Homo sapiens: one gene and its partner. The gene in region 1 interacts genetically with each later gene. Each region holds a gene or a part of one and is shown on either strand. Other genes may lie near its edges.

The links. Genes that interact genetically often act in the same process or in processes that back each other up.
Region 2: changes in BAZ2A (region 1) and HAPSTR1 together harm fitness less than expected from each alone (positive genetic interaction), as found in Homo sapiens cells (one large-scale study listed by BioGRID).

What each region holds. Positions count from the first base shown.
Region 1 is NC_000012.12:56,599,327-56,602,826, forward strand, and holds part of BAZ2A (bromodomain adjacent to zinc finger domain protein 2A), read right to left. Parts: coding exon 3,387-3,500; intron 2,867-3,386; coding exon 2,220-2,866; intron 2,077-2,219; coding exon 1,854-2,076; intron 1,773-1,853; coding exon 1,617-1,772; intron 1,507-1,616; coding exon 1,355-1,506; intron 1,165-1,354; coding exon 875-1,164; intron 792-874; coding exon of another isoform or gene 771-791; coding exon 638-770; intron 523-637; coding exon 376-522; intron 33-375; coding exon 1-32. UniProt on the Homo sapiens protein: Regulatory subunit of the ATP-dependent NoRC-1 and NoRC-5 ISWI chromatin remodeling complexes, which form ordered nucleosome arrays on chromatin and facilitate access to DNA during DNA-templated processes such as DNA replication, transcription, and repair.
Region 2 is NC_000016.10:9,101,644-9,105,143, forward strand, and holds part of HAPSTR1 (HUWE1-associated protein modifying stress responses 1), read left to right. Parts: intron 1-1,340; coding exon 1,341-1,616; exon of another isoform or gene 1,617-3,500. UniProt on the Homo sapiens protein: Acts as a central player within a network of stress response pathways promoting cellular adaptability. The E3 ligase HUWE1 assists HAPSTR1 in controlling stress signaling and in turn, HUWE1 feeds back to promote the degradation of HAPSTR1.

The sequences.
Region 1 (3,500 bases):
CCAGGCTTCTGAGTGAATTCTCCCTCCACCTGCTTAGTATAGGAAACAGGTGAGATTAGCAACAGCTGGAGATGCACTGCTTGCCCTACTACAATCTCTGCCTAAATATGATTTAAGGCTTCAAAATACTATCATGCATAAGCCGGCATTGGTTTATTCACATAACCCAATGAAGTAGGTAAAAGGGAAGGTATAGTTATTCTCATTTTATAGAGACAGCAATTAAAGCTATAGAATTTAAGTGACTTGTCCAAAAAAGGACTTAGAACCCAGGTCCCCTAATACCCAGTCTAGGACTCTTTCCAAGGAGAGGAGAGATTGAGGATAATCTCTGATTTCTGTTTGAGTGTGGGAAAGAAAGAGCAGAAGCCTTACCTGAGCCAAACAGACAGTACAGAACCAATCTCCTTCTGGGACAGCCTCCATCTTGGGACGATGGCAGTAAATGTGGCAGCCACGGTCACACCCATCACAAAGCAGAAGAAACTCATCATTGTCACCCTTCCGGCAGACTAGACATGTCTGGACCAAGGTTGTGAGGAGGCAGAATGAGCTCTCCAGCCTCTACCTGCCAGTGACCCCACCCCGCCCCTGCTGGCTGGCCCCTCAGCCTCTCCAGGCTCTCTCAGCCTCTTACCACTTTGTTGACAGACTTCTCCCAGGCAATGGACCTCTCCAGCTGGCCCAGGCACAAGCACACCTGGGCTGCGCTCCGGCACCGCTCGAGGGTCTGGCGCCAGACACGAATGCGAGGGGTGATCTCATATGATCTGGAGGGAGAAAGTGGTGATCTTTGGAGAAGGAGCGGATCCACTAAAGAGGGAACTTATCCCTTTCTCTCCAAGACCAAGAATGGAGGGTGGGAGTCACTCACATCTCTGTAGTGGTGCCCTCAGGGGCACCATTAGGTGTGCTAAGCAGGGCCTTCTCCAGCACAACCTCATGAGTTGGCCAGAGGGGCTCCCGCAGGTACCGCCGTTCTACATTCTGTTCCAGGGCAGCCAGCCGCATCACAGCCAGGTCCAAAGGGTTGGTAGTTTTACGCTGAGGTGCCAGTCCCTCCCTGCCCCGACCTCGCCAGGTGATATCCTCCTGGGAGTCGGAGAGGTGCTCACAGTAGGCCAAGTCTTCACGGGTAGAGTCTGGGCTAGGACATGTCCAGCCCTTCAGTTAAGAGAGAGGAATAAAACTCACTGTAAAAGGAGGAAAATTTGGCATAGGAAAAAAAAAAACAAAAACAAGACCCACTTAAGGTAGGTCACCTGTGAAGTAGGGACCCAGGGTTTTTTCTAACAGGGCATAAGGGACTAATGCTTTTCCCCAACCTTCCTACACAGTGCCAATCCCAGCATACCCGAATCTGCAGATCAGACATGATAACCCGCTGCTCCAGCTCCTCTACCCATTGAAGCACTGCTAGGTCTGTCTCGTATGTCTTCTCTTTGGGGGACCAGCTCATAATCCCTTCTTGAAAGGCAGGTAGTTGCCTGGGCTCAAAGATGGGGTCTGAGAAGAGAGGTGGCAGAGGGAGAGGCCCATCAGGCTGTTGTCCCTAGCAGCAGCTCAATGCTTATCCTGGGCTCTTCAGCTCAAGCTGGGTGTAGGAATGTATTTACCAGCTGAGGGCCGCAGGCAGACTTCCTGCAAGAAGTCCCTGTGCTTGTTAAGGTGTTTGTGAAGTGCCTTCTCCCGGATACCTCGGGGGTGTAGGGCCTTGAGCATGGCATCCAACATCTCAGGATCTCGTATCCACCACCAGCCTGAGCACATCTCTGTGAGCAGATGAGATATATGTGGGGCGCCAGCTGTGAAGCACTGCCCACACCGGATGCCCTCACTCCAAGGTCACTCACCAGGTGGGACAGGCTGGGCTGTCAGCTGGGTTAGGTAACGCTGTTCCATCTGTTTGAAGAACTTACTGGGAGGTCTCCCTCTCCGTTTGGGCTGTCCCAGCCCTGTGGGACTCTGTGGCATTTCTCCAGGGTCTCCTGCTCGCCTCTTAGGGGCCAACCCAGCCAAGGGCGTGGAAGAGAACTGCACTGGAGAACAAGGGTTGGCAGCACTAGGTCTATTCATCTGTGAATAAAATGAGACATAAGGAAATGAGGATGTTTTCATGTTTATAGGTTCCCTCAACTTCAGGCAGCAGCTCCACACCCAGGCAATGGTGCCTGTGGCAAGATGAAATCAAGTGCATACTACTAATTCTGGCTACTTACTGGCTTGGAGGAGGCAAGCTGCTGAGGGGAGGGAGTGGGTTGGTCCTCAGAAACTGCAGGGGGCGGTGTGGGGGCAGCATTGCAGGGCATCTGGGCTGAGATGTTAAACCAGAGTGCTTGAGGATCAGGGCTGGATTCTGCCTCATCAGGCTCTGGCTCCTCCGGGGGTTGTGATGGAGCTGGGTCTAGTTTTCCCGGACTGCTATCAGGTGTGAGGACTGAGCTGCTCAACAGGGAGCTATGGCTCTGAGTCTGGCTCAGCCAAGACAGGAAGGCTGACTGGCTGAGGTCATGCTGGCTCTGACCCAGTGACAAAGGGGAGCCTTCTTGCTCCAGGAACCCCTTATGGGACTGAAGCTGAAGCTGAAGCTGAGGCTGGGGCTGGGCAGGAGCATGAAGCTGAGCCTCAGGCTGAAGCTGGGCCTGGGGCTGTTCTGAATCCTGACCCCTGACAGGGGACTTAAGATGCCTAGGTTGCATAGACCCGGGCTTAGTTTTTCGAGGTCGGCCTCGGGCCCGGGCAGGAGAACTGGCAGTGGTGTTGGAGCCAGCTAACTCCATCTTCATAGAGAAGAGGGCAGGGTTGAGTGACGCATGGGCTGCCACTTTTAAGGAGTCAGTTTCCTTCTTTATCACCTCCTCAGGAACTGTAAAGAGAAGTAAAGAGTTAAGCCATATGCTGACATACAAGGGAAAAGTAAGAGGGTATATAAACTTAGGACCTATACTTTCTTTTTCTCTTGGACTTAGTCCCCCTTTTTTGAGATTCCACTGGGAAGAGCTTATATGCCAATGAACACAGTATCTGGGGAAGAAACACTATTCTCCCAAGTAATCAGCAGCAGCAGCACAATCATAAGCTAACATTTATTGCGAAACAACTACGGGTTAAGTATTATTCTAAGAGACTTAACTCATTTTAATCCTCTCAGTAGCCTTATGAAGTACATACACTATTATTATCTCAACTTCACAAATGAAGAAACAGAATCATACAGCTGGAAATGGCAGAGCAGGTGGGTAGGCAGCTTTACTCTAAAATCTGTGCTCTTAACCATTACGCTATATTATCAGAAAATGAAAGAAGCCCAAGACTACTAAGGAAAAGGAATTATTTAATTCTTGTTTGATAGGACTCAGAATCCACACTCCCACAGGCACACCTACCTAAGTTCCCCTCTGTTCCTTCTACAAAGATACCAGCCAAATACGGCAATACCCAGTAGCGACGTCTGTAGCGGTCCTGACCCAGGGAGACCGCCCGAAGCATCTGGGATGAGT
Region 2 (3,500 bases), on another chromosome or scaffold:
AGTAGGCCTTATTATAAAGTTCTGGTTGTTGTGCTTCCCTCTTGCCATTTTCTTTAATAGTGCAAATTCAGCTTGGCATCCTCTGTGATGTCTGGATGATTTTTTTTTTTTTTTTCTGGAACATAGCTTTACATTGTTTGACTATTGCCCATCCTTTGAGAGTCTGCTGTAGATGTAGCAGACAAGAAATTAAAGCCGCCGGTTGCAGTGGCTCACGCCTGTAATCCCCAGCACTTTGGGAGGCTGAGGCAGGCGGATCACAAGGTCAGGAGTTGAAGACCAGCCTGACCAATATGGTGAAACCCGGTCTCTACTAAAAATAGAAAAATTAGCCAGGCATGGTGGCGTGCGCCTGTAATCCCAGCTACTCAGGAGGCTGAAGCAGGAGAACCCTGGAGGCGGAGGTTGCAGTGAGCTGAGATCGAGCCATCGCACTACAGCCTGGGCAACAGAGAGACTCCGTCTCAAAAAATAAAATAAAACGAAATAATCAAAGCCGGGAAAAGTAATAGAGAAATGTACACAGTATTGTTGCTTTTACGGAAAGTTCAAGGATAAAGTAACGATGTTGGTTAATGCCATTAAAGACATACTGGTGATGTTCTGCTGGCACAGCAGCTCAATTAAAACTAAATAATAGTCACTTAAATTTTCAAATTTTTTTTCAACTAAATGAAACCACTAAAAGGTAGAGATCATTTTACCAAAACCCAGGTGGAGTATATGCAGAGAATTTAGTCTAGGAGATCTGTTGGGAATGGTTGAGTTACAGGAAGCTGTTGAGAACTGGAAGCAAAATGAGTATACCCAGGGAAATGAATAAAGCTTTTTGTTTTCCACCATGCTATTTGGTTTTAGTGTTGAGCCATCAGTCAGAATTAATTTTTCCTTCTAAAACATTTGCTGCTGCCTTCAGCTTGTTCCTCATTCTTGGTGCTGAATCTGTCAGTAGGAATGTATCTCCACAATGACGTGGTAAATGCAGATGAGCGTGGCCTGAGGCATGTGCAATATTTAGACATCTGTTGAATGATGTGATGCAAGTTATTTTAGGTAATTTCATTAAAGATACCTAATCTCTCTGTTTCTGTTAAATTTTTTTTTTTAACAAGCCAAGCTCCAGGACTGTGATAAGTAAACACTGAATTTAGACCATTAAGATTAAATGTTACATATAACATTTTCATTATGACTGAAATCATTTCAGTTTATATTACTGATGGGCTCAGAGGCCACATCATGGTATTCACTTTGGTTAAATTGTAAAATGGTTTTCTTTAGAAGGGAATACGGGCTCTAATGGTCATGATACATGTTTTCTTTTTCTTTTTTTCTAACAGAAAGCGTGGATACCCATCAACGAAGTTTTGATATTGGAATTCAGATTGGCTATCAGCGACGCAATAAGGATGTGTTGGCTTGGGTTAAAAAACGCAGAAGAACTATTCGTCGAGAAGATTTGATCAGCTTCCTGTGTGGAAAAGTTCCTCCACCACGAAACTCTAGAGCTCCCCCAAGACTGACTGTAGTGTCCCCTAACCGAGCTACTTCAACGGAAACTAGCTCATCTGTAGAGACTGATTTGCAACCCTTCCGGGAAGCCATAGCTCTGCATGGTAAAGCCGTTTAAACATATTTCTTTGGAAAAATGGTTAAGAGGGTGCCTGTGGACCCATTTTTCACGGTTAGGTTTAGGTCCAGATATACTGTTTTTTGTCTTACAGTAAACAGCTTGCTCTAGAAATGTTTAATAGAATGTAAGCTAAGAACTTAATATGGGCGATTTCTGTCAGCTAACCTATCCTAGAAAATGTTTTTAGAAAGTTAGTTTGAGCTTATTGGTGTTAAAATGACATATCTTTCTGCAGTGTTGATTAGAATTTATCGCTTTACACTTATGTGTTGTACGTGTTTTTTTCCTCTTCTGAAGTCAAAGAGGAAGTTCTTGTGTCTTAAGAATTCTGTTATATTTCTAATGGTCCATGACAGGCAAGTAAGGTGGGAAATTGTTGGGTTAGTTCTCATGGGACCTGGGACCTCCCTTGACACCTTTCTTACTTGGTTTGCTGTAGATGGTGGGAGAGGATGGATGTAAGACTTGACCTTCTGCCTGTCGTCCCTCAGGTCCCTTGCACTTTAAGAGGCAGGACCAGCAGAGTGCAGCCAGTGGGCAGGTGGATCTCTATCTCCCCAGGCCAGACCTGTCATAAGAAGGCACTCTTGGCTAAGGGATTTTAGTATTGCTGGAGAAACCCGGGAAATGTAGTCAGTGATAAGTCTGTTGTTGCTTGTTGCTGTCTAATACAGACTTCCAAATAGAGCTGGGAGAGTTAACCTGTGTGACAGCATTGAATACTGCTGTAGGAAAAAAAGCAACAGAATAATAAGACTTGCTTGAAACCATGATGGAAAGATGGATCACGCAGATGGCTAAGCAGGTAGAAGTAATTAGGTCATGAATCCTTTTTTTCTTTTTTTTTTTTTTTTGGAGACGGAGTTTCGCTCTTGTGGCCCAGGCTGGAGTGCATTGGCGCGATATTGGCTCACCGCGACCTCTACCTCTGGGTTCAAGCGATTCTCCTGCCTCAGCCTCCCGAGTAGCTGGGATTACAGGCATGTGCCACCACGCCGGCTAATTTTTTAGAGACAGGGTTTCACCGTGTTGGTCAGGCTGGTCTCGAACTCCCAACCTCAGGTGATCCGCCCACCTTGGCCTCCCAAAGTGTTGGGATTACAGGTGTGAGCCACTGCGCCTGGCCATGAGTCTTGTTGAAAGTTAACATTTTTGGGCCATAGTACAGGTCATCTAAAACAAAGTAACCTGGTAAGGTACTAAGAAATAGTGGCATATAAAGAAACTTTATAGACGTTGAATCATTGAGACTTTATAATACCTGTAGAGATCTTGTTCTCTCTGGCAAACCGTAGTTCTTTCCTGAAACCCCAATGTTGTTTTTTCCCTTGATAGTGTTTAGGACAATTAAAAACAAAAACATGAATTGCAGGAAAGTTCAGGTTGTGTGGATGCAGTACTTTAAGACTGCACACTGTTCCTGACACAGTGGAATAGTTAGGCTGTCAGAACTTTGGAAGCTCAGGCAAAAATGGGATTGATCTGTTTATGCTGAATTAGAGAGTTTCACATCTTTCCCCCTAAAGTTTGGGAAAACAATTAACTAGAGGTGTACATAGTTTGTTAGATTAATTTTAGCGCATGGTAATATTTGATGCAGTTGTCTCTCCTTAAGTATTGTGATTTTCTTCCTTTATTAAGAGGGTTGTGGGTCATTCCATGCTTCTCTTAAGGTATCTTTTTACTCTGTTTTACTGTTATATTTTAGAAGATAGTTTTAAGAAACATAAAAACCATGCTTGTTATCTTAACGTAGTAGTAGTGTACATAATAGTAAAAAGGGCAAGCCAGCCCCCTCTGCCCTCGAAAAACTGTATTCTCCAACTCCCACTACATTTTCTCATATTGAATCTGTTCCACCTGTGAT